Regions from separate parts of the Homo sapiens genome. Here region 2 is linked to region 1. Evidence: fine-mapped expression QTL. A gene starts in region 1. The other region holds a variant in brackets. All regions are shown on one strand. Distances are between the middles of the regions.

What was found.
Region 2: its variant is fine-mapped to the expression of PVALB in whole blood (INTERVAL, PIP above 0.99).

Annotation. Positions count from the first base shown.
Region 1 is chr22:36,809,849-36,825,773 of GRCh38, forward strand. It overlaps PVALB (parvalbumin), which reads right to left and starts at 7,187. Exons shown (of 4, transcript NM_001315532.2): 1 at 7,097-7,187; 2 at 5,255-5,387; 3 at 3,798-3,907. The coding sequence starts at 7,157.
Region 2 is chr22:36,848,205-36,864,129 of GRCh38, forward strand. NCF4 (neutrophil cytosolic factor 4) reads left to right here and starts at 12,802. Exons shown (of 10, transcript NM_000631.5): 1 at 12,802-12,999; 2 at 15,841-15,925. The coding sequence starts at 12,968. The region is part of intron 1 of NCF4-AS1 (NCF4 antisense RNA 1); the gene reads right to left. The variant T/C (reference allele first, on the strand shown) is at 11,607.

The DNA.
Region 1 (15,925 bases):
TCCCATGTTTTTTTTTTTTTTTTTTGGTTTTTCGTTTTGTTTTGTTTTGTTTTTGAGATGGAGTCTAGCTCTGCTGTCCAGGCTGGAGTGCAGTGGTGTGATCTTGGCTCACTGCAACCTCCGCCTCCTGGGTTCAAGTGATTCTCCTGCCTCAGCCTCTTGAGTAGCTGGGATTACAGGTGTGTGCCACCACGCCTGGCTAATTTTTGTATTTTTAGTAGAGGTGGGGTTTCACCATGTTGGCCAGGCTGGTCTCGAACTCCTGACCTTGTGATCTGCCCGCCTTGGACTCCCAAAGTGCTGGGATTACAGGCATGAGCCACTGCGCCCGGCATGCCCCATGGTTTTAAAGACAAGGCACTTTATGGTCAGAGGGGCTCTGGGACATGCCCCAGATCCCGCCAGGAGTTGAAGGCATCTTCCAGCTATAGGTGGGGCTCGGGCCTTCTGGCCTTTAGAGAGAGTGACAGCAAAGCAGAGTATCTGAAACAGAACGTCCTGGGCCCCAAAAAGGCTCTGCTTCCCATCTCGCTGCCTATTGGGCATCATTGCACCCACCCTTCCTGCGTTAGGGGGTTGGGAGTGAGGAAGGGGGCATCTGCATCTTCCCACCTCAAAAGCATGAAGTGTGGGGCCCCAGTGCCTCAGGGTGGTCTGTGCTCATTGTCTATTTTATGTCTTGCCTATGAGCTCAATGGAGGCTGCACAGGTGGGCCTGGACCATGCTGTTGGGTTTGAATCCTGGCCCTGACACTTGCTGGCATTGTGACCTTGCACTCACTCCCTGGGCTGCCCTTTCTACATCTGCACTTATGTCCTCTGTTGTCCCAAGGTCAAATGAGGTAACCAAACCCAGCACTAGGCTGGACACACATGACATGCCCAGCTAATAATTCTTTCCTCCCATTCTTGGCAAAACAATCTTCTTGCCCCTTTCTGAACATACCCAAAAGTTTCCAGCCTTGGCTGATGCCAATACCTTGCCTGGACCCCACTCCCTCTGTCCCCTACAGCCTGTGGCTTAGCCTCCAAGTCCGTACAAAATGCCTGATGCCTGCGCCTCTGCCTCTGGCTGGCACTATCGCTTGTTTGTGTATATGTGTAGAGCTGCAAGCAATTTGCAGACAATAAAAATGACATTGCATGGCCGGGTGCAGTGGCTCATGCCTGTAACCCCAGCACTTTGGGAGGCTGAGGTGGGCGGATGACTTGAGGTCAGGAGTTCGAGACCAGCCTGGCCAACATGGTGAAACCTCGTCTCTACTAAAAATACAAAAATTAGCTGGGGATGGTGGTGCGTGCCTGTAATCCCAGCTACTCAGGAGGCTGGGGGAGGGGGGAATTGCTTAAACCCAGGAGGCAGAGGTTGCAGAGAGCTGAGATTACACCACTGCACTCCAGCCTGGGTGACAGAGAGAGACTGTCTCTAAATAAATAAATAAATAAATAAATAAATAAATAAGGCATTGCAGTGGCCATTTATTGAGCATTTGTTATGTGCTGGGCACTACAGGCCACATTTCCATGTTATAATGCCTAGTTTACAGATGAGGAAGCTGGGGCTCAGGGCTAAGGAGTAGCTGCTCAGGGGCACCCAGTCAGGAAATGGGCCTGAATTATTTTTACCTCTTCCATTGCCGGGCACAGAGTTGCTACTCAGTCAACATCTGCTGGATCTGTTAGAAGAGTTTAGTTGATGCCTTAAGATCTGAGTGTGGCAGGGAGGGAGGGAGGGAGGCAGGGAACTGGGCCAGGTTTGGCTGGTTTCTCTTCATCAGGTAGGTTTTCTGTGAGCAGTCAGCCATGAAGACCCAGCCCAGGGCTTCTGAGGTATGGCATATTGGCTGCAAATAAAAATGGAAGGCAGGTCTGGAGGCCAGGGTCAGGGTTCAGATGGGAGCCAGGCCTTGGGGTGGAGCTGTCTGATAAGCAGATTGGTGGGGATGGGGGTGTGAGGGAGGATCTGCCAAGCACCAGAAGCCCCAGGAGCGGCCAAGCCAATGATGCCTTTCCAATACCCTCTGCTCCACTCCTTTAAAACCACCTCCCTCCTTCCCAGCCACAAGAAGGGCAGCTGGCATCAGATGGCCAGGGGACCCCCTGCATTTGACCTGGATAGGGATTCTCCATTCTCGTTACTGGCAGGAAACAAACAAACAGAAAAGAAATCAACAACAACAACAACAAAAAAAACCCTCTAACTCATAGGCATACACCTACTTTCATAATCCTTGTACCTTTCCCAAAGCAATTTTGGGTTCACAGAATCTTAATTTTCACAACAAGCCCAAATAGGTCTTAGGAGAAGCTGATGCACCCCATTTGCCGGGCAAGGGAACGTAGGTGTGCAGAGGTGACGTGTTCAAGGTCACAGCTGGCAAGGGGCAGAGAAGGAGCAGAGCATGGGGGTCTGGGCTTTACACTCAGGCAGCGGATGTTTATGAAGCACCTGCTCTGTGTGGGGTATTGGCTAGATACTGGGGCTAGAAGGATGAATGCAACCCAATCCCTAGTTTTAAGTTTTACATCCACTTATATGTTGGATGTAAGTGGGTAGAACGTGAAGATTCTAGACAGAAGGTACCCTTGCGAAGGGACCTAGTTTTAAAAAAATTAGCTAACAAATACATATATAACATTTACTCTGTGCCAGACACTGTTCTAGGCACTTTACATATTAACACATCTAACCCTTGTAATCACCCTGTAAGAATTATCATTCTATTCAGTTCAGAGATGAGAAAACAGAGGCTCAGAGTAGTTATCAAATTACGCAAGGTCACACAGCTCGAAAGTGGTAGGGCTGGGATTTGAACCCAGATAGCCTGGGGCCCAGAGGCCAAACACCTACACACAGTTTTCTCTGAGACCAGCAGAAAAGCCTATTATGGGAACAAATGGCAGCTTAGTATGTTGCAAACACTCATTCAGGCCTGGTTCTAAATCCCCACTCCACCGCTATGTCCTAGCTCTTTCAACTAGGCTAAGCACCTTCAAAGTCCATTTGCCCACCTGCAAAATGGAGATAATTCCGGAGAAAATCATAAGCTAAGAGAGATAGCAATGTGGGTGTGCTCCATGAATGCCACACAGAGCCAAATGGAGAAAGGAGTGGACGGTGGGCCACTGGTCTCTCACCTGTGCTGACATTGAAGCCTGCAAAGCAAGGCAGGGCCAGGTATTCCCTGTCTGAATTCCCCACTGATTTCTGGTTTACTGTTTTTCCTGGCTCTGCTGCAAGGCTAGAATAGTATATTTGAGTAAAACCCAAACAGGTTTTGAGACTTGGGGTTACAGGACACCAGGACAAGATGCTGAGGAGGACAGGAGATAGGAATTTCCATCCCTGGAATCTGAGGATGTGAGAGGCAGAGGATCCTTGGGGATTAGTCGGCCTCATTTCGTTGGATTAGAGATGGGAGACAGAGGCCCAGCGATCGAGAGACACTGCCCAAGGTCACACAGCCAGTTTGGGCAGAGGTTGGGCCAGTATCCATGCAAAAATGCAGGCAGAGTTCAGGAAAAAAAAATCCCAAATCCTCCTGGATCCCCTACCCAGCAGGAAAAACAGAATCTATTCCTTTTAGGTTTTCAAATTAGGAAAATACACCAGTTTTCCTTTGTCTGGAGTATGTGGCAGAGCTCTCAGACCTAATGGACTGCTTTTTGTCTTCTAATCTGGGGGAGTGAGGGACCCCCATATCATCCCTTCCTTGTGACAGACATAGCTTCAAACTTTTCGCATCCAACACCCCAAGATCCACAATATGCCCAGACCCCAGGTCACGGCTACCCACCGTCAACCCCAATTTTGCCGTCCCCATCTTTGTCTCCAGCAGCCATCAGCATCTTGGTTTCTTTAGCAGACAGGTCTCTGGCATCTGGGGAGAAGCCTTTTAGGATGAATCTGGAGGAGAAAAGGGAGAAAGCCGGTGAGGGAGTCAGGCCGAGGTCGCCTTGCAGGACGCTGGATGGAGGGTGGTCTGGTTTCTGTATGGGGAAAGGGATGGCTGGGACAGGCAGCGAGCAGCAGTCACGCACACGGATGCTCTGGGCCAGGTAGCCTGCTCGGTGGCTGTGCTTTCGTGGGTGAGTATTTAGGAAAGGACAGGCTGTCCTCAGTGAAGGGTTGTCCTCACTTCAGGGAGGGCACCTACATTCGTTAATTTATCCAACAAGTATTCACTAAGTGTCATTTCTGTGTCTGGCGTATGCTGGAAAGTGGGGTCACAGTGGTGATCTTCGGAAGGCACTGGAAAAAATAAGGAGGTCACGGGCTCCGAGAGAGACCACACAGTGTGATGGGCCGTGGAGGAGGGCACTCAGAAGCTGTATCTGCCCACCTGCGGTGAGGGGAGGAGAGGGGAGGCTTCCTGGTGAAGGTGATACCTGGAGGACAGGGGGAAGTCAGCCTCTGTGAGTGTGTGTGTGTGTGTGTGTGTGTGTGTGTGTGTGTGCATAAGTGTGCATGCATGTTGGATGTAAGTGGGTAGAACGTGAAGATTCTAGACAGAAGGTACCCTTGTGAGATGGTTTAGGGGAGAGACAGGATGGGTGGGGAAGTCCCTACTTGAAAGGCCTCTCCCTACACCCACCCCCCGCTTCTCTTTTTGACAAAACTCAAGGCTTTCTTGGCCAGAAAGTGACATAAGGCAACCTGAGTCAGTAGACATGGCCGGGTGGCTGAGGGAATTATGGTGGGAGATGCTTTTGCAGATGGAGGCATGCATTTTCCTAGCCACAGCCTTCTCCTTCTCTGCTTTTCTCCAAGGACCCCTGGACTCTCAGAGGTGGTTCTGCATCCCTGGCTTGCCTAGAAATTGCACCAGCCACACTAGTACCAGAGGGCTGGGGGCTGCAGGAAGGTGGAAAGTGTCTTTTAGACAAATGAAAATCAATGAAATACTCAAGTGAATGCTTTCTGCCCTGCCTATGGTGTTAGGCAGCAAGAAAACTGCCTCTTCATTTGCATTAAATTATTAAGTAGCAACATTCCATTAGCAATATTAAGTGGCTATCATTTAACCTAGTTAGTTGCACTTTCAGCTGAGGGTTTTACTCTTCCGAAGCAATAGCACCAGGAAGCCTTCTCCCCTGGTGCCCTGGGTCGGAGCCCTGCCTTCACGCACGGTTACTTTCTGTGAAGCAGGCAGAGTGAAAGGCAGGTCTGATGGACACTTGGAAGCTAGAGTCCCAGCCCCCACTCCCTCTCGTGCAGCCGTGGGCTGGGCAGCCCCTGCAGGCCTCCGCTTACCCCAGCTCATCCTCCTCGATGAAGCCACTTTTGTCCTTGTCCAGCATGTGAAACACCTTCTTCACATCATCCGCACTCTTTTTCTTCAGGCCGACCATTTGGAAGAACTTTTTGTGGTCGAAGGAGTCGGTAGCTGTGGGGGGAAGAGCAGGGTCAAACAAGGACCAGAAAGGCTGGTAGGGAAGCCTGGGAGAATGGGGGGCATCAAGGCATTTGTTGATGGATTCCCACATGCCAGTCATGGGGAATGAGAGGTACCCACCTCCATTGGAGGGCTGAGGGAGCCCGGGCAAGGGAGGATAACCTGTCCAAGGTCACAAGGCTGGGAGTGGAAGAGGTGTGCTCAAACCCAGACCTCCCTGGCTCTCAAGCCCGCCCCCACGCCCCACCTCCACTGCACCCATTGCTGATGATGGGAGCAGCACCTAAGAACCAAAGGCTTTTGTTCTTCTGAGAACCTTGTGCCCAGGAAGACTTTTGAGTGCCAGCTGGTTGGGAGTGGGCTGGGGAATTGAAGGGGGCATGAACATGGTCCTGGGGTTAGGGGGAGGAGGGTTGACCTTCTTTCTTGGCCACAGACTTTGTTGCCAGAAAATTGACATAGAAAGGACAGGTTTCCCTCAAGGTCATACAGTGGGAGGAGGAGGGGCAAACCCGGAAGTCCTGGCTCTGCGCAGAAATCCACTTCGGAGGCAGTGGGAAGGGGGTGTTAGGAGGCTCCCGAGAAACACCCAGTTAAGTTTCTTCCCACATGGGCTTGAGGTGAAGGGAGAGGGTTATCCCAGGACCCTGGGAGGGTGGCTTCCCAGAGAGGTTCTTGTGCCCAGGGGAGGGGGTGCAAAGCAGAAAGGAAATGGGGGTCCTTTTCTACCTGCAATTTTCTGTATCTTGGGGTCCTGTTTTAGAACACCTGGGGAAGGGTACAATGTTAGATCATGTATTTTGTGTGTGTGTGTGTGTGTGTGTGTGTGTAGGGAATGGCTGTTGAAGTCATGTTCTCTTCCCCTCAGCACAGGGCTAGAGACAAGGAAAGTTGCCCTGTCCACCTCCGACACTAGGCTGGGCAACCCAGTTCTAATACCCCTTCTGCCCAGCTAGGTGACCTTGGGCAAATGTCTTGTCCTCTCCAAGACAGTTCCCTGATTTCCCCATCTGGAGGACAGGGGAGGAGGAAGGCGGGCAGCTTAGCGCTGAAGTCCCGGGCAGCTGGGAGAGGTGAGACTGCCAGTTCCCCTCCCCTGCCCGCCTAAGGAGGCTGGAGGTTTGAGGCACTGAGGATGCCCCGTGCGGGCTTAGGCAGAGCTGTGCGCCGGCTCCAGAAGGTCACCTCGCCCGCAGGTCCGTTGCTGAATCTCAGTAAAGGAACTAGGACAGTCAGGGGGCCAACAAAGGCTACCGCCTGGCGGGAAAAGTCCTGTCCAGAATGAGGGTCCAGGAAAGGGGTCTCTTGGAGAGGAGGATGCCCCCTGCAGTCCCCTCTAAGTGCCTTAAAGAGGACGTCCAGAGAGCTCGTACAAGGACCCTGGAGGTCTCTCCTCCGACCCTGGTCTTCGCCCTTGGTCCCGGACCCTGAGTCCTCCCAGCCACCGGGCCTTCAGCACCCTCAAGTTTCTGTAACTTAGGCGGGGCGCCCTCTTCCCCGCCCGCTCCCCGCGCCAAGCCTCGCCCGGACAGAGTTTGGGAACTGCCAAGGACGCCCCCGCCCCGACCTCGCCGGCGCCCAGCGGGAAGTGTGGGCAGAAGCGCGCTGGGGAGGATCCGCCGGCTGCGGGGCCGGCGGAGTGCAGGGGCGCGGGCGGTGGACGAGGGGAGAGGGATGGGGAGGGGAGCGCGCTTGCTCACCGCTAAAGGCTCCCACCGCCTTCTTGATGTCCTCAGCGTTCAGCAAGTCTGTCATCGACATCCTGCAACTGTTTGAGCGGGCAGAGCAAGTGCGAAAAGATTAAAAAGTGCTTTTCTCATCATTTCTGCTCATATGACCAGCGCTGCAGTGCTGCGCGCCGGGCGCACGCCCGCCGGGCCTGGCATGGCGCCAGGGGCCCGGACTCTGAGCGCAGCGGGAGCGGCTCAGTCCAGCCGCGCCGCTGAGCAGCGCCGGCCGCCGGCAAGAAGGCGCGCGGACCTGCTACCACTCCTGCACCGCCAGGCCAGGGGTCCGCGGGATCCCAGGGGCTGCGGCCAGGGCACGAGGGAAGGGGCCACCTCTGGGATTTAGGGGGCACTGGCGTCACCAGCTGGGTCTGGAAAGTCCACCTGCCGTCAAGGACACGCAGGAGGTGCGCCGTCTCAGATCTGGGAACCTTGGCGGATGTCCTGCCGCGTGGGGGAAGATCCTGAACCTTCAGCGGCCAGCCTGCACCTCAGGACCTCCTAGGCCCTGCTCCCTTTCTCTCTCCACTCCTACCTCAGCCTCTGCTCTGGTCTGTCCTGGATGCAAATTTATGCTGCAAAATCTGAGCGCTGAGGTCCTGAAACCTGACCCACCCGACGCAGGGAGGAGGTGGCAGGGACAGGGACAGGGACAGGCAGGAGCTGCTGGGGCCCACTTCGGGTGCCCCATCCCACATCTGGCCAGGGATGCATATTCTAAAACCTGATTTGATGTTTTACTTTTATTTTTTATTTTTTTGCTGGCTTGATTTTTCGAAGAACACTTCTCAGATCTCTACTAACTACTTGCTTTCCTGGTCTCCTGGGTCCTGGCATCATGGGTCCAGACTCCCCCTACTCCTATAAACCTTTTTTGGGCAGAGTAGGGTGGGAGAGTCCGCTTGGAATTGCTATGCTCCCTCCCAGAAAGCCCCATATGTGTTTGGAAGAAGGGTAGCACCTTCAGACCACACTTTCTAGACAACCTAAGCAGGTGTAGGGGTCTGAACTTCACCTCTGGAAAAATGTCACGGTGCCTATCTGTATGCAGCCAGAGACCCGTTGTGTTCTTCCCCATGGTTCCCAAGGTTTCAAGCTGCAACCAGCTGCTTCTAGAGTGTGTGAGCGCTGGACAGGGAGTCAGGAGGCCTGGGTTCTAGATCCTGGGCTGCACTAAGTCCCAGTGTGACCTTGGGTTGTGACCTTCTCTGGGCTTCTGTCTCCTTCTGATGTGTTGATGACGTCAGTGGTCCCATGTAGTGGGACCTGGGGACTGCAACTTAAGGTATTGGCAGGTAGGCAGGGCCTTGGGCTGTGGTGGCCCTGGGTGGTGGGGACCAGGGAGAGCAGCTGTCCAGCTGCCCAGTAACTCAAGTTCCCTGACATCGCTGTCAACATTGTCTCCTGCAGCTCAGCCCTGGATGGCTGCCCTTCCTGGAAACCTTAGGATACCTCTGCTGGCTCCAGCTGCCCCCTCCCTGTGAGTCAGCTCCTTCAAGCCACAGCCCGCCAGATGGCTTCCAAGGCACCAAGGATGCAGCTCCTGACCTGATGCCTCTCAGCTCCAGGACTTCCCAGGACCCCTCAGCTGCCCTGGACCCTGCTGCTACTGCCGTCACCTCTGCACCTTGTCCCCAGCTGGGCTGCTGACTCAGATATGCCAGGCTCCTATGCTATCATTTCAACTCCCAGGCTCAGCTCACTCCAGGAGCCTAGTTGGAGAATGGATTTCCCCAGCTGAAGGACGCTTCAGCTATACCAGTGGAGAAACGGAGGCACAGAGTCCGTGAATGGTCTAAGGACACATGGTAAAGCAATAGCAGAGCAGGGTACACCCCTGGACTCACTCGTGTGGAGTTCAGTGACTCTCTGGGTGATCCTCCCTGGTGCCTGGGACCCAGCTCTATCAGGTCCCATACATCTCAGCCACACACTGGCTCCTGGTGAGCCCCTAAGCAGCTACCCTGTGGCAAAGGCTGCAGCCTCAACAGGGGCCCACTCTTCTTCCATCTCCTTCCTCCATCTCTCCCTGCTGCTGAGTTCTCCTATCAACTTGACACCCCCTCCGGGACTGAGCCCTCCCAGCCAGAGCATCAATGTCATTAGGTCAGCCCATCAGCCCTGGGTAGTCCTCCTCTGCCCTCTGGGTCCTCTCTGATGGCATCACCAGAGTCCACAGATGTCTGACTCCAGCCCTCTCGTTCTAAGGCTGGGGAATCTGAGGCCCAGCCACGGGGGGCGGTGGGTGGGGGGAGTTTGCCCCAGGCCACACCAGGAGTCTGGGTGGAGAAGCAGGAATGCATGCTCTCAGCCCTACATTCCACAGCTGCCCTGCCTCCAGCACCCCCACCGCACCCCCCTCCCCGGGTCACTACGGACAGGGGAGATGTAGCTCTCCCTTCCAGCTGGCTCATCCTGCTGCATCCCTCTATCCTCCAACCTCGGTAGCTGCCACTCACCTCGGGTGGGGGTGGAGGGCTGGAGCCTGCACTGAAAGGCTGGGCTGGTGGGAAGTCCTGTCGGGAAGTGAGCCTGGAGGTGGGATGGCCACCTATATAGGCTTCTGCTCTGGCTATTTTGGGAGGTGGCACTCCCCGTAGCCCCGGCCCCCTCCCCTTCCGGTGTCAGGTACTCCCCAACCGTGGTGCTGGGTGTCTGTATCACATTCAGCCTCCCTGGGCCCATCAGGCCAAGACTATTAATAACTCTTGGCCCCTGCTTCCCTCCAGCACCCAAAATTGAGGCCCAGGCAGGGCTCGCCTCTTCCATGAAGCCTTCCGTGACCACTGTAGATGGCAGCGATGCTTCCTTCCTCCATATTCTGCCAGGAAAGGAAGAGAAACAGCAAGGAAAAGAATGAAACAAGAACTGTCCTCTGTGCATGGGGCTGAGCCCCATTCCTATGCTGATATGATCTCTCACTACAGCCTTGCCAGGTAGACATAGCTGCTCTCGCACAGATGAGGAAACAGCATAAAGACGTTAGATGTTAAGTGACCTGCTGCTCAAAGCCACGGGCCTGGGGTTGGGAGCGGACTCAGCACTTTTGTGCGAGGATCTAGTGCCTGGTAGAAGGAAATGTTCCGCATATTCTCAGACAAGTCCCTTCCTCTCTCTTTCTCAGTCTTTCCACCTGTAACATGAGCTCAATCAGAGGTAAACTGTGCCCTATAGATGGTCTAGGGCGAGGGGAAGATGGACCCCCTGAAATTGTATGCGTGTGACATTGAGGCACAAAGGCCCAAGCCCTTCATGATTTGCAAAGAGATCTCTGACATTGTCTGTTTTGGATTGGAGAGGACCAGCTGAGGGATGTGTTTTGAGAAGCATGAATGACCAAATGAATTCAATAAATACGTAGTGAATATCTAATCTGACCACCATGAAATGTTCCTCTCCTCATCCCTAACCTGAAAAGAATCTCCAGGGCACGAAGATTGTCAATGGTGGGGTCTAGTTCTTCACAGTGACACGAGGAATCCCAGGCTCCATGCAAAGGCTGTTTGGAAGCTCCATGGATAGAAAGGGCCGAGGGCAGGCTGCATGGGGGAAGCTGGGACTGGGGCCTCCTTGAGGTGTGGTGCTGGGGCCTGAGCTAGGTTGCTGGTGGTGGCAACAGGAAGGAGTGTGCAGATAGGGGAGCACCTCTTGGAGAGAAGCTTCCAGAATTGGGGCTGTGGCATGAACAAGAGGGACAAATCCAAGCTGACCCTAAATATTCAAGGTGGGGTTTGCTGAAGAAGGAAGGTGTTGACTTTGAAGGCAGGGAGTGTAGGGAGGAGGTAGTGCTCAGTCGAAGGGATGATAGAGTAAGTGGTGTTGAATCCTAGGATGTTAGGGCTGGGACAGCCTCCGTGGTGATCGGCTACAAACTTCTACAAATGACATCATGTTATAGATGAAGAAACCAAGGCCAGGGTGACTTACCCAAATCCCCCAGAGAGTAGTGGAAGAGCCAAGAGCTGATGCTGGGTTTAGGGGACCTGAAGGACACCCTGGCGGAGATGTGTCTGAACTCTGGAGTGAGGTCAGGGCTGGACCCTGGGGGCTTTGTCATCAGAGAAGTCAAGGAGTTGATCTCGTCAAGTCGTGGGCATGGCTGAGCTCAGGGAGCCGGGATGCAGGAGAACCTTGAGGATGAACCCTTGAGGAAGATCGCTGGCTGGGGCCTGGGAAAATAATTACACTTGTTTGTTGAACAGTGTGCTGGGTTCTGTGTGCACAGCATCGCACTTTGATTCTTGTATCCCCTTAAGAGGTAGGCAAAACCCTCTCTTTTTTACTAATGATGGAAGAACAAGGCTCAGAGAGATTGGGCAACTTGCCTAAGATCACAGAATGGAGGTAGGATTTCAGCCCCGGTTCTCTGACTCCAAAGCACTTGCTCCTTTCTACCACACTATCCTGCTTCCAGAATAAGACCGGAAGACGGGAGCAGCACCTACTGTGGGTGAATTCTCAGGAGCCCAGATGGCCTTCCTCTTTGTCCCCATAGGTCTTCTTCATGTACCTCTAATTAAGCAAATCTGAATGGGCTGAACCATATCGTGTGTGTGTGTGTGTGTTGGGGGGGGGGTGCATTTATTGAGCACCTACTGCGTACCTAGTGCTTTATGTGCTTTATCTCAGACGTTCGAAGAAATAGAATCTCAGAGAGGTTTAGTGACTTACCTAAGGTCACACAGGTAGGAAGTAGGTGGGAGAGCTAGGATTTAAACTGAGCACTTCTGATTCTGGAGGATCTTTCCCCCTACAATACTTAAAGTAGGGTAGAGATGTCCTAAAACCCGAGTCATATATCTGGAAACATGATCTAGTTTTTTTTTTTTTTGTTTGTTTGTTTTTTTGCTCTGAATCTGTGCTGATTGAAGCAGGCTTCATTTTATTAATTTGGTTAATTATACAAGGGCCTTGATGCCAGAAAATGGGTTTATCAGTCAGGTCTGTTTTTGCCTGTAAGTGATGAGAAAGTCTGACTTGGGCTGGCTTAAGACAGTGGGGGATTTGCTAACTCGTGCAACTGAAAAGTCCACGAAGGTTCAAGCATGGTTTGATCCAGAACTCAAATGCTGTCAGGAAGATGCTGTTTCTCTTACTTCTCAGCAATACCTTGTGCCACTCTCTCAAACTGGTTGACCCCTGAGGGTGGCAAGATGGCTGTCCCTGCAATGCTACAAACTTTCAGGTCCAAGTCCTTTGGGGGAAAGGGAGTCTACAGCCCGAGAGTTTGCTCAAAAGTCCCAGAGCTATACAAAAATTAGCTGGGCGTGGTGGTGTGTGCCTGCAGTCCCAGCTACTCAGGAGGCTGAGGCCGGAGAATCTCTTGAACCCGGGAGGTGGAGATTGCAGTGGGCCGAGATCACGCCACTGCACTCCAGTCTGGTGACAGAGTGAGACTCCGCTCAAAAAAAAAAAAAAAAAAAAGTCCCAGAGCTGCATTCACTGGTTGTGATGAGCTCAGTTTGGCCCATGTCATCCCTGAACCTGTCACTATTGATTACAAAGGGAGCACAGGCCTGTGGCACAGGATACCCTTCAGGCTTGGAGGAGGCAGAATGTCAACATCATTGGAATGGCCTGGAGAGGGAGACTGTCCCTGGACAGAGAGGTGAGGGGCTTTGAGCAGTCAAAGCCCACGAAGTCATTGTTGAGGTAAGTCCCTGGGGGCTGCCCAAGTGTGCCAGGCACATGGGAGGTTCATGCCCTAAGTCCTTGGTGAGTGTAATGACAGTTTGCCTGCATCAAACTTCTAGAGCATGATTCACTCTGAGGCCCAAAGTTGCTTTCCTGGACTTAAGTCCCCTCCCACCGACCCAGGCCCATCCTGCTCTGCGTGAGACCTTACAGACTCCACCCGCCTAGGACCTCTGCTTAAAGGCAGCAGCAGTGCCCAGTGGAATTTTCCTCTAGCTTCAGGGTTTCTTACTGTGAGCAGGGAGGAGGACCCTGAGTAGCTAGCAGATGCCGCAATCTCACACTGACGCCCCCTTCTATCCCCTAAAATGAGGCGTGGTCTTTAGCTGATCACGTTCACATAGTTCCAGTAACATATATGTTACCAGAGTGGATCCCACTATCTTTTTCTTTTATACAGATGAAAAGTTTTTACAGATGAACCAAACTGAGGTTCAGAGAAGTCAAGTCACTTGCCCAAGGTCACGCAGTTCGCCAGGACCAGAGCCTGGTCTGTCTGCCTCTTCTCACATCCAGTGCTCTCCCTGATGCCCTCTCTGGCCTCCCAGCTGGTGGAGGGGAGGAGGCCAGTGTGTGCGGGCCAGCAGTCTCTCAGCTGCCGCCTGCCAGGAGATAAGTATTCAGCTGTTAGCTTCGCTGCTGCTATTTCATGAGTTCACACTATTTCCACCTGCTGTGGCTGGGAACAGGATACAGAGTTCCCCACATCCAGGGCCCCGGCAGGCTGGGTGGACATCGCAGGATCTAATGATATCGATGAGATCAGCCCTGTGGGATGATGTGTATTAACTCAAAGGAATCTCGGCTGCATTCCTGAGAGCCGGATCTCAGGAAGCCTGTGGCCTTGTTTCCCTTTCCTCCCCTTACCCATGCTTAAGCACGATTTCCTCCGGAGAGAGCGGCCACAGGGAACACAGTCGTGAGGATGGCAAGGGCAGGCAGACAGACGGCCCTGGGTCCCTGCCCCGGCTCCACCCACTTGCCCACTGTGTGATCCTGAGCCAGTTGGTTCACCTCTCTGGGCCTCAGTTTTTCCACCTGTAAAATGGAGCTAAAGAGGAAGCCGTGGTGAATACTAAATGAGATCGTGTCTGAGAAAGGCTATAAAATCCGACACAAATGATAATAGGGTTGCCATTGTGAGGAGCAGAACTTGATCCTGGCCTGCCCCTGAATGAGAAGACCTGGAATAGCTTTATGGATAGAAACATGGAGAGCCAGGGGTGCCGGCCTCTGAAAACCGCTGACTCTCCAGGAAGGTCTCCAAGGCCAGGACCCAGTGTCCTTGCTGGGGAAATGAGGAGCCACACGGAGAGGAAGAAGGGGAGAATCAGAGAATGTGAATGCTGGAAGGGGCTGGGGCTGGGGGCTCAGACGCACTGTGGTCTGGAAGGGCCTGGGGCTCTGGAAAGAGGGTGGGTTAGGGCTCAAGGGGCCGGGGTGAACAGAGCTCTTGGCCACCTGGGTTTATGTTCTGCCCTGGAAGACTCCACCCCATCCCAGTGCTGCCCAGAGGAACCCTGGGAAGGGGTTACGGCCCCACGTGGACTGGAGTGTGAAAGGGGAGCAGGGCACCCCTAGATCATGGCTGAGGTCATGGGCTGAGGGCGCAAGAAGGAGGCATGTACTCAGAAGGCCGGAGAGGATTGGAAAGAGGAGGTCTCTAGGTTCTCCCTTCTTGGGTGGTACTGGAGGGTGGGCCTGGAGGAGCCGAGGGAGGAGGCTGGTCCACAGGGCTTGAGAACGCTCGGCCCCAAGGCATCTTCACCCCAGCTCCAAACGTAAAGGGGGTCCTAGATTAAAAAGGTGACGTCCCCTCTCACTGTATCCTCTCTTCCTCAGTCCCCTCCCCATTAGTCCCTCCTGCCCCCATCACTGGCACAGCCCACGCCCTGCAACAGAGTAGAATGGTCCTTGACAGAGGTGTGTGTCCGTGTGTGCCTGCATCTGCGCGGTGTGTCTGTGTGTGGTATGTGTGGTGTGTGTCTGTGTGTGGTATGTGTGGTGTGTCTGTGTGTGGTGTGTCTGTGTGGTGTGTGTGTGGTGTGTGTGTGGTGTGTGTGGTATATGTGTCTGTGTGGTGTGTGTGTATGGCGTGTCTATGTGTGGTGTGTGTGGTATGTGTGTCTGTGGTGTGTCTGTGTGTGGTGTGTGTGGCGTGTCTGTGTGATGCATCTGTGTGTGGTGTGTGTGGTGTGTCTGTGTGTGGGGAGTATGTGTGTGTGGTGTGTCTATGTGTGGTGTGTGTGGGGTATGTGTGTGTGGTGTGTGTGGGGGGTGTGTGTGGTGTTTGCAGTGTGTGTGTGGTGTGCATCTGTGTGTTTCTCTGTATGTTGTGTCTGTGTATGGGGTGTGTGTCTGTGTGGGTTTCTATGTGGTGTGTTTGTGTGTAGGTGTGTGTGGTGTATGCAGATGTGTGTTTGCGTATGGCGTGTCTATGTGTGGTGTGTATCTGTGTGTGTTCTGTGTGTGGTGTGTCTCTGTGTGGTGTGTGTGTGTAAGGTGTGTGTGGTGTATACATGTGTGTTTGTGTATGGCGTGTCTATGTATGGTGTGTGTTTGTGTATGGCGTGTCTATGTATGGTGTGTGTTTGTGTATGGCGTGTCTATGTATGGTGTGTGTTTGTGTATGGCGTGTCTATGTATGGTGTGTGTTTGTGTATGGCGTGTCTATGTATGGTGTGTGTTTGTGTATGGCATGTCTATGTGTGGCGTGTGTTTGCATGTGTGTCGAGGGGGAGGATGACGAGTTTGCATGTGTGTTTTTTCTGTTTTTTTTTCCTTGGAGACAGGGTGCAGTAGCATGATCATAGCTCACCGCAGCCTTGAATTCCCAGCCTCATGTGATCCTTCCACCTTGGCCTCCCAAAGCATTGGGATTACAGGCATGAGCCACTGCACCCAGCCTCCATGTGTTTTTTGGGGACTCCCATCCAGTGCTCTTCCTTGGCTCTTGGGAGGGCCAGTGGCTGACCCTTCAGAGCCATTACAACAATCCGTGTGTGTCCTCTTCAGCATCTGGCTTCTTTGCATCAAAATCAGGCAAGTTCTAATGCTCTGAACTCTCCCATAGCAAACAGGGAAAATCAAGGTCTCACCTCTAACCAC
Region 2 (15,925 bases), 38 kb after region 1:
ATACAGAAAGCAATCAACTACTTTGTGGAAAAAAGTTACAAGCATTGGTCTCTCCTCCCTCCTGAGCCCTTGTTGACATAGAAAGAAAAAATATCTATATCTATATCTATCTATCATCTATCTATCTCTATATGTATATGTATGTATGTGTATATAAAGGATAGTCCGTCAGTCAAGGACAAAGAGAAGAGAAAGAGCATCAATGGATGTGAGATGGTAATACACTGTGGAAGGCGGGATTTGCTTCGAGGAAAGGTAATATATTCAGAAGGGCAGCAAACCTACACAATGGTCAGGTGTGGTGGCTCAGGCCTGTAATCCCAGCACTCTGGGAGGCCCAGGCGGGTGGATCACCTGAGGTCGGGAGTTTGAGACCAGCCTGACCAACATGGAGAAACCCCGTCTCTACTGAAAATACAAAATTAGCTGGGTGTGGTGGTGCGTGCCTGTAATTCCAGCTACTCAGGGGGCTGAGGCAGGAGAATCGCTTGAACCCGGGAGGTGGAGGTTGCAGTGAGCCGAGATCGTGCCATTACACTCTAGCCTGAGCAATAAGAGCAAAACTCTGTCTCAAAAAAAAAAAAGAAAGAAAGAAAAGAAAAAGAAAACCTACATTACGCAGAGCGGAGCACCAGTGAAAAGAAAACCAATGAGCTCAGACCCGCCCCCGCCCCCCACCCCCCCGCCACAGGGTCCCCAAGGTGAGGGGAGCAGGTGGAGAGGACGACGGGGGTGCAGTGAGAGCCAGCAGCCCGGGGCTTATCCTTGAGCCTTCTTCGGGAAGTCGATTCTCTGAGGATGGCAGAGAGGAGAGTCTCAGGACACCACGGCCACCAGCATAGCGGAGGCCTATGAGTGCCCTACGGAGGGGCATGTGCAGAGCCCCTCATCCCCTGGTCATCCCTACACCTTCTGCCCTTCCGTTAGAGTCTGTAGATAGGGTTTTCGGGGGATAAGGGGCAGGTCCACGCCCTACAATGCAGGGCTCCGGGAGGTAGGGGTTTCAGATGGGAGTGTGTGGGGGCAGAGGAACAAGGGGAGAAAAGACCCTTTCCCTCCCTCATCAGAGAAGAAGAAGACTTTTGGAAAGACCTGGGAGGGGTGCTGGAGAAAGTCTAGATCCTGCTATTAAGTGGAAGGGGAAGTGGTCTGAGCATCAAACTTTACCCTGAGGCTGAAGCCCCTTCTAAGATCGTTGTGAAGCCCATTCTAAGATTCTAAAGATCACCTCGTGATCTTTCTTATCGTCCCCAGGGCTCCAGGGCACCCACCATAACACTCCTAATTCCATCATCTTAAGCACTTACTGTGTGCCAGGCAGATGTTCCATTTCGAACCCTTGTGATACCTTTCTAGTGGATGGCGTGTGGAGTCTTTAAGGAGAACTAGGAATTGGTTAAGCAGAGATATTGGGGGTGGGGGGTGGAGGCACTGGAATATGCAAAGGCCTGGGCACATTGGGGCTTGAGGGACCACCTGCCCCAGTAGTTTTAGCTGGGAGAGGAGAGGAATGAGTCTGGAGTTAGGCTGGAGCCTGGCTGAATGAGAGCGATATGGACTCGTTTTCTTAGCCACCGTGAGGCCTGGAGGGATGGGATGTGTGGGGTTAGTCATATTCAGGAAAGGCCTCCCAGGAGCTGGTGTGGATGACAACCCGCAGGACGGATGGAGGACAAGACCAGGTGGGCCACTGTTGAAATTATTCAGGCAGGAGAGGAGGAAAATCTGAATTTAAGCCCAGGCTGTAGGGATGGAGGAGGAGAGGCAGTTAGAGGGAACTTAAGGAGGTGAAATACATTCCTGACAGATCGGCTGTGGCAGGCCAAGGAGACAGGAAGGCCAAGGTGACTCCAGGTTTCTGTCTTCCGTAAATGGTGGAGACAGAGCTCAGGAGGAGGGGCCGCTGTGGAGGGAAAGGAACCACTGGCTTGGAGGGGCTCGGGGAACAGCTAGGGAGAGGTAGGGGGTCCAGGAGGCAGCTGGGACACACGGCCTGGTGCCCAGCGAGCGACCGCAGAGTCCTCGGTGTGCAGATGGTAACAGAGCGCTCGGGAGTAAGGAAACCCCCACTCAGAGTGCATGCTGGGGAAGGTGGCTGAGGTTGGAGAGGCATCTGGGAGGAGCCCCAGTCACAGAGGAGAAGCGGTGGGAGCAAGTGGCACAGGGGTTGGGGGAGCCGAGGCAGCATTGTGGGTGGTAGGTAATAGCAGAGGCCAGGCCAGGCGCAGTGGCCCACGCCTGTAATCCCAGCACTTTGGGAGGCCAAGGCGGGTGGATCACCTGAGGTCAGGGGTTCAAGACTAGCCTGGCCAACATGGTGAAACCCCGTCTCTACTAAAAATACAAAAATTAGCCGGGCGTGGTGGTCCACGCCTGTAATCCCAGTGACTCAGGAGGCTGAGGCAGGAGAATCACTTGAATCCGGGAGGCAGATTGCAGTGAGCCAAGACTGCGCTACTGCATTCCAGCCTGGGAGACAGAGTGAGACTCCGTCTCAGAAAAAACAAAAACAAAAAACAAATAGCAGAGGCCACAGCTGCAGAAGGACCCCAGGTGAGGGCTGGGGACAGGAGTACACTGAGGGCTGTGGCTAGGAGGTCACAGCTGGGAGCAGGTGGCCGAAGGGCCAGGAGCTGAAAGGCCAGTTACAGAACTCCCAGGACTGCGTGTTACAAAGCTCTCTGGTTCCTGGCTGTGCAGCTCCGAGAGAGTGGGGCACCCTGGGCAGTCGTCGCCACACTGTGGGCATGTAAGAGGGAAAGCTCTCCCCTTAACGTAGAGGGCAGAGCTCATGAGGAGCGAGAGATGCTTTTATTTCAATCACCTGGGTCCTGGCCTCATCCGGCAAGAGGGCAATGTCCGAGATCAAAAGCCCAGTCCTACTGCAAGTCTACCCACTTGCTTTGTCTCCTTCTTCACTCTCGGCCTCCATCCTCCCCTCTTTTTCTCCCTCCCTTCCTCCCACAAACCCTTATTGGTCCTGTTTTGGACACTGGTGATTCATAGATGAATGGGACATGGTTCTTGCCCCCAAATGTGCCCATGCTATGGAATCTTCAGCAGGAAGAGGTGAGAAGTGAAGACGCTGACAGAGGCTGGAATTAAAGTGACAGCTCTAGCTGGGGAGGGTGCTGCCCCAGCCTTCCAGGGAAGTCTTTGACCAGTTTTGAATCTTAGGTGATGCAAAGAATCAAATGGATGAAGAAAAGCCATAAAATCATAGAGATGGGAGGAAGACGGGGAGAATGCATCAGGAGAGGTCAAGTTGATGTACAGGACAATGAGCAGGCAGAGGAAGGGAGGAAGGCATGTCCTGGGGCCCGGGCTGGAGGGAGGGTGCGGGTGGGTGAGGGGCTTCAGAGTGCTGCAGCGCAGAGGAGGGAGGAGAGGGCTGTGGAAAGGGGAGGTTGCCATTCCTTTGTAGTTAATATTTGGAGGCACGACTGATTTTTGAATATAGTTTCATGCAGATGCTGGTCAGCCTGGAGCCACACTTTTCTGCTGGCTGTAGATTTTTCCCCTTTTGATGCCTTTAGGAAAATCAAATTCCAACATGTCTGTGCTGGATAAACTGCAGCTAGAGGAGCCCTCCTTTCCTGGGGCACTTTCAAAGGCAGTGGCATCTTAGCAGCATCAGGAACCAGAGGTAGACCCTCAGGGAGGAGGCAGCCCTCAGGCAGCTGCTCTGCCTCACCCCTCACCCAGGATTCACCTTCCTGAGCTCTTTTTAACTGTCGCAAGGTAGTCTCTTTGCTGTTAACTCTGGTGCAGCGTCCACACAGACCTGCTTGCTTTTATAAATAAAGTTTTATTGGAAGATAGTCATGCACATTCAACTATTTATTGTTTATGGCTGCTTTTGTGCTGTGACAGCAGAATTCAGCAGTTGTGACAGAGACCAACTCCCTGCAAAGCCTAAACTATTTACTATCTGGCGTTTTTTAGAAATTATTTTTCAGCTGGGTGCAGTAGCTCACACCTGCAATCCCAGCACTTTAGGAGGCTGAAGCAGGTGGATCACTTGAGGCCAGAAGTTTGAGACCAGCCTGCCAACATGTTGAAACCTCATCTCCACTAAAAATACAAAAATTAGCGGGGCGTGGTGGCAGATGTCTGTAATCCTAGCTACTCAGGAGGCTGAGGTATGAGAATGGCTTGAATCCGGGAGGCAGAGGTTGCAGTGAGCTGAGATTGCACCACTGCACTCCAGCCTAGGTGACAGAGCGAGACTCCAACTTAAAAAAAAAAAATGAAAGAAAGAAAATGAAAAGAAAGCATTTGCCAATCCCTGCTCCAGTGTACTGGGTAGGGTACAGGTTCAGCTGCTGTAACAAGCATCAAAGAATCAGCTGCTAAAACACAATAGAAATTTCTTTCTCCCTGAAAAATCTGAACAGAAGCAGGGTCAGAGATCCAAGCTGTTTTGTTGCTTAACTGTTCTCCATAGCTGGCCTCTCCAGCCAGCTGGAAGGGGAGATGGGAAATGGAAGATACACCTTCTGTCTTTCACGACACAGCCTGATAGCATGTCCATGGCCTCCCCTCCCATTCTATTGGCCAGCAACTGGTCACATGGCCACAGGGAGCTGCAAGGTAGGCTGGGAAATGTTCTCTTTAGCTGGGTGGCCATGAGTCCAGCCACAACTCAGGGACTTTATCACTAAAGGAGAAAGGACAGAGTGGATCGTAGGGGATATTAGCAGTCTCTGCTACACCTTATCAAGAAGAATAAAGACAGAGTGCACAGGGGAAGGATTTGGCATTCCCTGCAGAGTATTAGAAAAAAATTTGTAACATGCTCAAATGAAGTAGGTATCAATAACGGATATAAAATACCTCCTTCTTCCACTTCCTCCCTCAAATATTTATTAAGCCCTCATTTATATTAGGCTCTATTTGGATGCATTTTGCAGATAAATAACCTGAAGCTCGGAGTGCTTGAGGGAGATGTCTGAGAGTTCATAGCCAAAGAGTGAGAGCTCTTTCTGCCTTATTGCCTTGCTTCCCTTGGGACACCCTGGGGCTGGGAGCTGGGCCTTGCAGCCTGCTAGGCTGGCTAGGTTTGGTGACACAGAAAGCAAATGAATAATTTTTAAAGTGAGAATTCTATAAAGGAGACTGCTTGAACAGATTCTGTTAGACTGAAAAGGCAGAAGGAGACACCGAGGTCACCAGAGATAGAAACTTCAGGAAGCAGCCATCACCCCTGCGGCTGTGGGAACGGAAGGAAGAGAGCGGGGTTACGCTAGCCTGGAAGCTTGGAGGAGGAGACTTAGACCTGCGGGGAGGAGCTGGGACTCAGAACTGCAGACCTCTGAGGAGGGGGTGGGGTGAGACTGGCTCTGGGAATGTGAAAAAAACTAAAACCTAGAATCAACTGCTGCTGGGCCAACATGGCTTCCAGGGCAGGGCAGTTGGGTCCCGCCTGCAAAGAGAAAGAAGCAAGCCCCTCCTTCCTCTCCCATCCTTCCGGCCTCCCTCCAGCGCCCCCTCCTGGCCAAGGGCAGCGGAAATCAGCCAGCAAAGCAGAACAAACAGGGTTTTGAGTCCCAGCTCGGGCACCACAAAGCAGAGGGTAGAAGAAAGGTTTGGAGCTGGGAGAAAATCATTTAATAACCAGCCCCAAGGCTATGACTCATTTAGACCCCCAGTCTGTGCAGACCTGGGGCCACTGCCTCTGAGCCAGTGCACACCGGGTACTCTGGAGCCTCTGTCTTCTGATACATGGGTCAGGGGGAATGCAAAATGATTCAACCACTTTGGAAAACAGTTTCCTTCTTTTTGTTTGTTTGTTTGTTTGTTTGTTTGTTTGTTTGTTTGTTTTTAGACCGAGTCTCGCTCTGTCGCCCAGGGTGGGGTGCAGTGACGCGATCTCAGCTTGCTGAAATCTCTCCTGGGTTCAAGGGATTCTCCTGCCTCAGCCTCCCGAGTAATTGGGATTACAGGTGCCCACCACCATGCGTGGCTAATTTTTGTATTTTTAATAGAGATGGGGCTTCACCATGTTGGCCAGGCTGGTCTCGAACTCCTGACCTCAGGTGATTCACCCACCTCGGCCTCCCAAAGTGCTGGGATTACAGGCGTGAGCCACCACACCCGACCTGGAAAACAGTTTTCCTATAAAGTTAAATATGCATCTACCATATGACCCAGCAACTCTCTCTTAGATATTTACCCAAGAGAAATGAAGGCACATGCTCACTCAAACATTTATGCTTGATGTTTGTAGCCCCTTTGTTTTAACAGCCCCAAACTGGAAAACAAAAAAAAAACCCTAATGTTTATGAACTTGTGCATGGAAAACAACTTATGTTATATCCATACAATAAAATACTACTTGACAATAAAAAGAATGAATACCGATGTACATATCAACACTCATGAATTTCAAAAGCGTTATACTATGTGAAAAAAAACAGGCACAAAAGATCACATACTCTGTGGTTTTGTCCGAAATTTCAGAAATGGCAAAATACTGTGATAGAAAGTGGATCAGTCATTGCCAGGGCCTGGGGGTAGGGGAAGGAGATTGGCTGCAAAGTGTCCTGAGGGATCTTTTGAGATAATGGAAATGTCCTATATAATGATTGTGGTGCTGGTTACACAACTGTCCAAACCCATGGAATTGTATACTTTCAGTTGGTAAGTTTTACTGTGTGTGAATTGCACCTTGATAAAGCTGATTTTTTAAAAATTGAAGTAGAACGCTGTTAGAAGTGGTGCTTCCTCCCCTTGTTTCTAATGCCACCCTCTTGCAAGCCCATATCCAAGTAGTGGACCAAGGCATCTTATAAAAACATAAATTCAATCATATCACTCCTTGTTTAAAACACTTGAATGGTTTCTCTTTCCTCTTTGAATGAAATCCTGAGAATCACCATGACTTACAAGCCTATCTGTCCTGCTCACTGACCCTGACATTTGGAGGGCCTAGAGCAATGGGACAGAGGCCCATGTACCACGATTCTAAATATGTACAGTTAGGAATCAAGCCAATCAACTGCTAAAAAGTAAGTTCTATCCTTCTTTGATAAATGTACCTTCATGATAAACTGGAAGGCCAGGTTCAAATGTAGAGTTTGGAGTTCTGTCCCAGAATGTAAGGTTAACGAAAGGCAGACGCTAGACTATAGCCTACTGCCATTGCCTTTCCACCCCCGGATCCATCTGAAACCTCCAGGCTACCTGCCAGGCCGCTGTAGACATTTGTGTCCATAACCTCTGGGGACCAAAGACAGCACTGGAGATGGAATCAGAGAAACTGGATGTGAAACATGTATCTCTTGGTTTTCCCCAAATTGTACTTGATTCTGTATGTGTGTACATGTTTGAGCATGGGTATGCATGCACGTGTATATTTGCATGTGTGTGCATGCATGTATGTGCATTTCTATATGCCTGTGTGTACATGCATGTGTGTGCAGGTGTACATGTACATGTGTATATGTATGTGTCTCTGTGTACATGCCTATGTGTGCATGTGTATATGTACATGTGTATGTGTATATGTGCCTGCGTGTGCATGTGTATATATGCCTGTGTGTGCATGCATGTGTATGTGTTTATACATGTTTGTGCATGTGTATGTGTGCCTGCGTGTGCATGTGTATATGTGCCTGTGTTGTGCATGTGTGTTTATTTATGTACCTCAACAGCAGTGTGAGCTACCTGAGGGCAGCAGTTGTGCTGAATTCATCTCAATATCCTTTCTACCTGGTGCAGAGTGATACTAGATGAATGCTTGTGGAGTGAATAAATGAATGAATGAGGGCCAGTACAGCAGTTATTAAGTGTGGGTCTTGAAGCCAGACTGATGTGAGGTCCAAATCTTACTCTGCCGGTCATTAAGCAAGCCGCTTTGGTTTATTTTCCTAATCCCGTAAAGCCTGGGTTTCCTTATCTCCCGGTGGGGATAAGAATACCACTATTTTATGGGGGTTGGTGTGAGGATTAGGTAACAACAATCAGAGCCAACATGGACCAAGCCAGGCTGTGGGCCAGGCACTGTACTAAGGGCTTTGCAAATGCTAGCTCTCGTGCTCCTCCTGGCAATTTCACGGTGTAGGGGTGGTTACACAGTCAACTCTCAGAGTGACTTGGCTGTTACCGTATTTATGATGGTGGAGAGGAGATTCAGGATTCTTAGCCCCTGGGGGAAGCTTCCCCTGAGTGCAGCTCAGATTCTGGCTGATAGGGCTGTCTGGAGAGGTTGTCTGAGCCAGCAGGCTGCGCGCTCTGCCTGGCCAGCTGCAACTTGACTCTCGACTTGGCCGGGTCCTTCTAGTGCGGCTTATAGCATTCAACCTCCTCTAGGTGGCGCTGCGGAGCGGGGACTCGGCTGCTGATCGCGGCGCCCCCTGGCGGTCTGTTCCCGTCAACATTTAGATTAAGCGCAGAGCCGGTTCCGCCAGGGAAGTGCGCGTCCCGGTGCCCCCGCGTGATGAGAGCGGATGACAGATTGCGGGAAAAAGTTAGAATGTAACGTTAGTTGTATGACAGAGAGGACCAAGCTGTGCAGCAGAGGGAGACAGAAAAGGGAGGGACCAAGCCACAGCAAGGAATGATCGTCAATAACATTAACGTCTAGAATTTATTGACCACCTGCTATGCGCGAGCCACTGTCCTAAACATCTGGTATTCATTCCCTTAGTTAACACACCTCTAGTAAGTGCGTGTCTCAAGAACAGTGTCTGTGTTTCATTTAGGGCCTAGCACACAGTGGGTGTCTGGCACATAGTAGGTTCTCAACACATTTGGAAATGAATAATACAATAATCCTGCAATTTTTCTCTCCAATTAATAATGTAGAGGCAAATATTATCTCCATTTAGAAAACTGAACAATGGTCGGAGAGTTTGCACAACTAATGCGTGACACAGCGAGGGCACACGAGGTTTAGACCCAGCTCAGCCGTGTGCCAGGGCTTCTCAGAGAAGAGAAGACCCTCTGCCTTCAGGGAGTTTGCTGTCTAATTGGCCACGTCTACACCCTCCCTGCCTGGGTGGCATGCCAGGGATGGCTATTTATGGCTCAGGGAGGAGGTCCAGTGAAGTTCCCCTCATAAATTATAAAGGGAGACACATGTGGGTCAAGATTGGGGAATTCAGTGTGTGAGGGATCCCCAGGAATCTTACACTGTCCAATCAGGGATTTTCCTTCTCTTACCCTGGAGAGTGGCTGATGTAGGCAGTGGGGATTTGCTGAGTACCTATAATGAGCTCTCAAGGGTATCTCCTGGTCCTGTAGAAGAGGCTCACCTCCTCCCTATCACAGAGTTCCAGTTCCTATGGCTGGAGCTCTCAGCCCCAGCCGCTGGCTGCTCAAAGGAGAGTTTCCTCATGTCCAAAATGGGGGCTATGGTTTATCTTGTATACCCCAGCACCTGCATGAGGAAGGACTGAAAAGTGCTGTGCACTTTTGTGATTCGCACATCCAGTCCCCATTCAGGCTCTGGGGATCCCCCAGGCATGGTCTTGGTGTATTAGACTTTTTCCTGGAGATGTGATTATGAATGGGCATTAGTAAGTGGTGTTATGCAGAGATGCCCTTCTCTGAATGGCCTCTGGTATTTGTTTTTTGAGTTCTTGAGAACATATATATTTTTTGGTATTCCATGGTCTTTATCATTGTCAGGCTGTCACTGAACTGTCGCTTGCATTTGGCTGCCCCTGGTAATTTTCTTCCTTCCCCTAACTCACTGCTTCAAGTTCTTGAGTTGGCAGGAAGAGAGGACCAGGCTCCTTTTATATTTCTTCTGTGAATAAAATATGCCAGTGTCAATGCATAGACTTTGAGCTATCAATTCTAACCATTCAATGGCTTTTCTCTTTTTTTGGTTTATTCACAGGCTGTGGGATGTGGAGGTTATCAAAAATCAGGTCTCCATAAGTGAGAGGTCACTTCAGGCATTTCTTTGCACTTATCCAAAAAAGATTCCATCCATACTTGTTTAATGGAACGTGTGAAGAGCTTGGCTCCTCTTCCAGGTCATCCCTCTGCCTCATTCTCCCCCTGCAGCAGGAGCAGCAAGAGCCCGGTTCTGGAGTGGGAGTAGAAGGTACAGGCATTGCTGCAGCGGCAGGACAGGAGCCCATTGCTGACAGAGTGCCTGGCCTCAAATTACACTGTATCAGAGCTCGGGCATAAAATTGGCAGCAGCGTTCTGTGTATGAGGAGACAGAGAAATACCTGTATTCAGCAGAACCACGGGCAGGGACAGAAGAAAAGGAGAGAAAGAGGGGAGGAGGGGAAGAGCTGGCCCGTCGCGGGCTCTTCCCTGGACATCTTTGTCCCCCAGGTGCAGAGGTGGCTTCCCAGTGGCTGAGTCAGGGCCACAGGAGGTTTCTTGGGGGGTTGGGGGGGCCGGGGTTTGGAGGGCAAGCCATGAAAATACCTGGGAAGGTAAACTTGAGGGCTTAACCCACCTGAAACACACACATACAGATATACACACTGAAAACGATTAAAAAAGGAATAAGAAATGTCCATGTGTCTAGGCACTTTTATACAGTTTTCTATTAATTCCTACTACAACTCCATTAGGCAAGACTGTTTCACAGATTGGTGAAGAAGAAAGGTTCAAAAAGGACATGTTATCTTGCCTGAGTTCACCTATTATAAATGTACTTGTGTTTATACTCATTTGTCACCGACTGCAACCTAAACATCTAAACACATTCTCTCACAGCCACAATGCCACCACTATACACATTATATGGTCTTTTATAGACACAACACAAATGCACTTACACTTGCCTATGCGAGCTGTATGTGTTTATACACAAATATGTGTTTCCAACTATAGGCATATACTACACACACAGTTTACACAATCACCTACAAATTCTGTATCATGCTTGCTTGCTAAAATTGTTTTGCCACTTCCTGTCCTTCCTGACCAACTGTAGGCCAATGTCCTCCTCTTCCCTCAGTTATGGCTGTGTGCTTGCACCTGTTGGTACTTACAGACACCTGCACTAATAACCCTGCTCTGTGTTTCATTTCATCCTCTAGCCTGGGAGCCCCGAGACACCAGCAACTCATCAGACTTATTGTTTGTATTATTTCTAGTTCTTTGGGTGTGAATTCTTCATGATGTGGAGGCTCTGAGCTGTCTTTCACAGCTCACGATTTGTAGTTTTGGTCTGTGAGTTGACAGAGTAGGCCCTGCAGAGTCACTGACTCCAAGCTGTTTTTATATAATGCCTCAGCTTAGGATTTCTGCACCACGTGGGTAGCTTATATCGGGGCCTTACACCAGTGCAGAGGGCAGGCTTGAGGCTGATCTGGTACACACGTCCCTTGTTCCACCCATGGACTGTGAGAGGACCTCAGCTCCTGCCGTGACTCTAGGCTGATGGCTGAGAAACTCTGTTCCCATAATCAGTTCTGACACCCACTTTACACTGAGAACTCAGATTTGACTTTCTGCTAACAGCAGGACCTGTGGCCTGTACCTAGTCCCAGATTTGGCATTAAAATCTCAGCCCAACAATGCATATCCAATCTTGGTTTTCCCATGGGCTGTTGGCCACGTTCCTCTCCCCCTGGTATAGATTCCTGACCCCTCTCTTTGATCCTACCTAAAAATTATGCTTTCTTGTTTT[T/C]TTTAGCTGGGACTTGTATGTTTAAAGTAGTTTAAAACAACTTTCTGCTCTGCATGTATGAATACGAGTGTGTGAGCGTGTGTAGCTGGCAGGGAGTTACTGGGTGTGGCTGTGCCAATGACTCCTGTGGACCTCTTCTCAGAGAAGTCCCTTCAGAATCAAATACCCATACCTGTTAGGAGCTGCAGTCACTGACTGGCAGCGTTTCATTCATTCACTGAATATTGGTTGAGCACTTGCAATGTGCCAGGCACGCTGCTAGCCAAGGAGGCAGTCATTAAACATACAGATAAACAAACAAATGTGAGATGACAATAGTTATGAGTGCTCTGCAGTAGACGTGCAGGGACCTGTGAGAGAATGTAGTAGGGAGGGCCTTAATTTAGGGTGTGTGGTCAGGGAAGGCCTCGCTAAAGATGTAGCTTCTAAGCTGAGATGCAAAGGAGGCAGTGAAGAGCTTTTTCCAGCAGAGGGAACACCATGAGCATAGGCCTTGGGGCGGACGTCTTAGAACATTCTAGAAACGGAAAGGAGGCCAGTGAGAAAAAGGGAGCTCAGGAGCAGAGGCTGGGGAAGGCTGCAGGGCCTCAGGGGCATTGGAGGCAGGCAGGGCAAGGACTCTGGACTTTATCCTGAGCACAGGGTGATGGGGCAGGAGAGTTTAAGCAGGGAGGGTGAAACTCACTCTGATTGGCAGCCCTGTGAAAGAGGATTGGCTGGGCATGGAGATCTAAGGATGAGGAAAGGATATCCCAGAGTGCCAGGGCGCGCAAACCAAACTTCACACTCTAGGAAGACAGAGGCCAGAGGAACCAGGAGGGCTTCCTGGAGGAGGTGGCATTTACTCTGGGCCTAAGAGATCACAGGAAAATGGAGGCCAGCATTCTAGGCCTGGGGAAGAGTTTGGGCAAAGGCTTGGCAGTAAGAGAATAAAGGTGGGGCTTGATGGGCCAGAGGATAAGTGACTCCTCAAGGTCACAAGACACCCTGATGGCTGGGACCCCATCTCTGATGGAGCAAGGCTTCTGATACCCAACTGAGGCTTGGCGCCAAGGACTGACATCAAGGAAGTGGATTCCTGCAAACCTGGCACCCGAGGGTCCACTTCCTCAATTTCTGTGCAGCTGGGAGGTGAGGTAAGAGGAAGTGTGGGCCACAGGCTAGGCCCAGAGAGCCTGGAGGAGGAGCCTCTGCCAGACTGGAGAGAAGCAGGCCTGAGCCTCCCCAAAGGCAGCTCCTGGGGACTCCCAGGACCACAGGCTGAGACGAGACGCAGGGTGGCTGGAGGAAGTGAGAGGTGAACTCAGCCTGGGACTGGCTGGGCGAGACTCTCCACCTGCTCCCTGGGACCATCGCCCACCATGGCTGTGGCCCAGCAGCTGCGGGCCGAGAGGTGAGTGCCGGGGTGTGGCCGCCCCCGGGCCTTCTCACTGCTCCTCATAGGCCTTAGGGACAAAGGCCAGTCCTTCTGCAGTCCCTGATCAACATGAGAGGCTGGGGTTGAGTCAGAACCCAAATACTCAGAAATGCAACCTCTCAGAACTGCTTTAACGAAACTTTGAGCTGTGGCTCACCACCCTCAGACACAAATGAGAACACTGAGGCTCCAAGAGTGGGAGTGACTTGCCCACGGTCACACAACGAGTGACCGGCAGTGTCTGGAGAGGAATGCAGGTGTCCTGGGTCCCAGGCTGGGGCCCTTTGCTTCACATGGTGATCAGCAATGACTTTCCATCTTCTGCGCAAACAGAATTCACAGAATCTGGCTTGTTCTTCCGCTAATCAGGGCTTGCCTCAAATGTCACCTCCTCCAAGAAGCCTTCCTGACAGCCCCTACCTCATTGCTGTCTGACCCTTTGCCCTATTTCCCTTTTCTGCCTGGTTCTTATATTACAGGAATAATATTATATGCTCATTTATTATTTTTTCTTGAACGTTGGCTCCCCCATGAGAAGCAAGCTCCACGAGGCTGTGTCCGTTTTGATCGCTGCTGTATCACTAGGAGGTAGCTCATCCCTATTGAGCACCAGGACCAAGGGCTCAATAAATGTTGCTGAATGAATGAATAAATGAATGAATGAATGGGTGGATCTTTGAGACGGAAAAGGTCTTAGATTCTTCTAGTCCAACCTTGCCATTGTACAGATTGGAAATCTGAGGCCCAGGGAGGATAAGAGACTTACTCAGGGTCACAGAGAGTGACTGGCAAGGTTGGGGCTTGGAGCACGGCCTCACCAGCATCTAGCCTCGTCGCTTGGGAAGCATTTTCAGAATTTTTCCTCAGTAGCCAGGTCTGAGCTCTAAGCTGCGGGGGCCCTGAGGACGCAAAGCCTGGCCCCTGCACCCCCTGGATTGGAACAGCAGGTGACCTCTGTTACCTACGTGGAGGCCACTCAGGGGGTCACCAGAGACAGGCCAGGCTGGTGTGTGCCTACGCGGGGAACAGAAGGCCCATGTTGGGGCCTGGGGCTGGAAGTAGAACCTGAAGCGTGGGTTGGGGCAAGGGCAGCAGAAGCAAATGCCTACAGGGGAGTCCACGTGGCCTTCCTGAGCCTCAGAGCGGGGTGCAGGAGCTGGGTAAGGCTGGCCGACCTGAATTCCTTCCTCCCCTCACATGCTCCTGGGGGACCCAGCCGCACGCAAACTCGAATCTTCCGGAAGCAGCAGCTGTTTGAGGCTTGGGCACTTCCTGCTTTCTGGGGTACAGGGTTCAGGGGATGACACGGAGAGCTGACCAGCAGGACTGTGCACTCCCTCCCCCACTCCCTGTCCCCTTTCAGCTGCCTTAGCCCTCAGAGGGGGAGGGACTGCTTTTCATGAGGCCTTGAGCCAGGTACTAGGGGCATGGGGGCTCCCTGTACCTCGAAGGTCTTATCTGAAAGCGAGCCTGGATTGTTCTGCTTAAGGTCAAAGCAGAGAGTACAAGGAGAGGGCGCAGGTTCGCGCAGCGGGGACTTTCTAGAACCCCAAGGTGAGACATCCAAAGATGGGGAGGGCTGCCTTAGGGGTGGCAAGTTCGGTTCCAACAGACATGTTTTGAGCACCTACTATGTGCCAGGTGCCAGAAAACCTGCCCTGGCTGCCCTCCAAGGGTTCTTCCAACCTCGGCCTCCCCCAGGGCAGGCTCCAAAACCTCCCCCAGGCCAGGCTCCAAAGTCTGTGAACTGTGCGAGTGTGTCTTGAGCCAGAACATCCCGGCCCAGTAGGGCCTGGGTGAGGTCCCCAAGGGAGCGGATATTCCAGGGGACTTCCGGTTGGGTTTGCTGCTCTTCTTGCCCGCCCCACAGGCAGCCAGGCCATTCTCATGCTGCCCATCAAAAAACTCTATAATTGCAGACGACGGTAGTGGCCGTGTATTGAGCAGTACTGAGCACCTACTGTATGCCGGGCTCTGTTCTGGGCACTGGGATGTAGGGTGAGCAGAGTCCTTGCCCTCATGGAGATTTTAGGGCTGTGTTTGTTACAGATGGGACTGCATGACCACCCGGAGACATAAGTACTTCTCCTGTCCCCATTTTACAGAGGAGGGAAGGAGCGGAGCACAGCTAGGAATCTTCCCAAGGGAGCTTGATCTTCTTGTCCCCAGTGCTGCGCCTATGCCTCGAGCATCTGCCAATGTCTGTCCTGCTTGACTCCTTCCTCAGCCCCCACCACCCCAGGGAAAACTCGAGGTCCCTCTGCGAGGCATCAAGGCACCTCGTGAGCGGGCCCTGCCTGTCTCTCCGACTGGTCTCTCATCACGTTCCACCTCCTGCTCTGTGCTCCAGCCATGCTCAGCAACCTGCGGTTCCCTGAACTGAGCAGCTCCATCCAGGGCACATGTTGACTTTGTTTACATCTGTGACCCAGGGCCTAGGACAGGGCCTGGTATGGAGATGTTTGATGCCTTATTCCCAGGTGAATCTGTGCAATTGACAGCAATGTGTTAGACTATAATTTGGCTATTGCTATATGGTCACCAGCTTCCCATTCCTACACTCAATATGGCCACCAGCTTCCCATTCCTGCACTCAGTATGGCCGCCAGCTTCCCATTCCTGCACTCAAGGCCTGGGCTGTGTCTTGTTATCTCCGTATTCCCAGGGTCAGTGGCTGGACCTGGCCTGGGAAGGGGTGCTGAGAGACGAATGTTGGCTTCACAACATTAGTTTGCTTTGCACTCTACCTCATACCCGGTGGGCCCACAAAACACATCAGGGTGATAAGCAGGATCTCTTTTCCCCTCCTTCGCACAGTGACTTTGAACAGCTTCCGGATGATGTTGCCATCTCGGCCAACATTGCTGACATCGAGGAGAAGAGAGGCTTCACCAGCCACTTT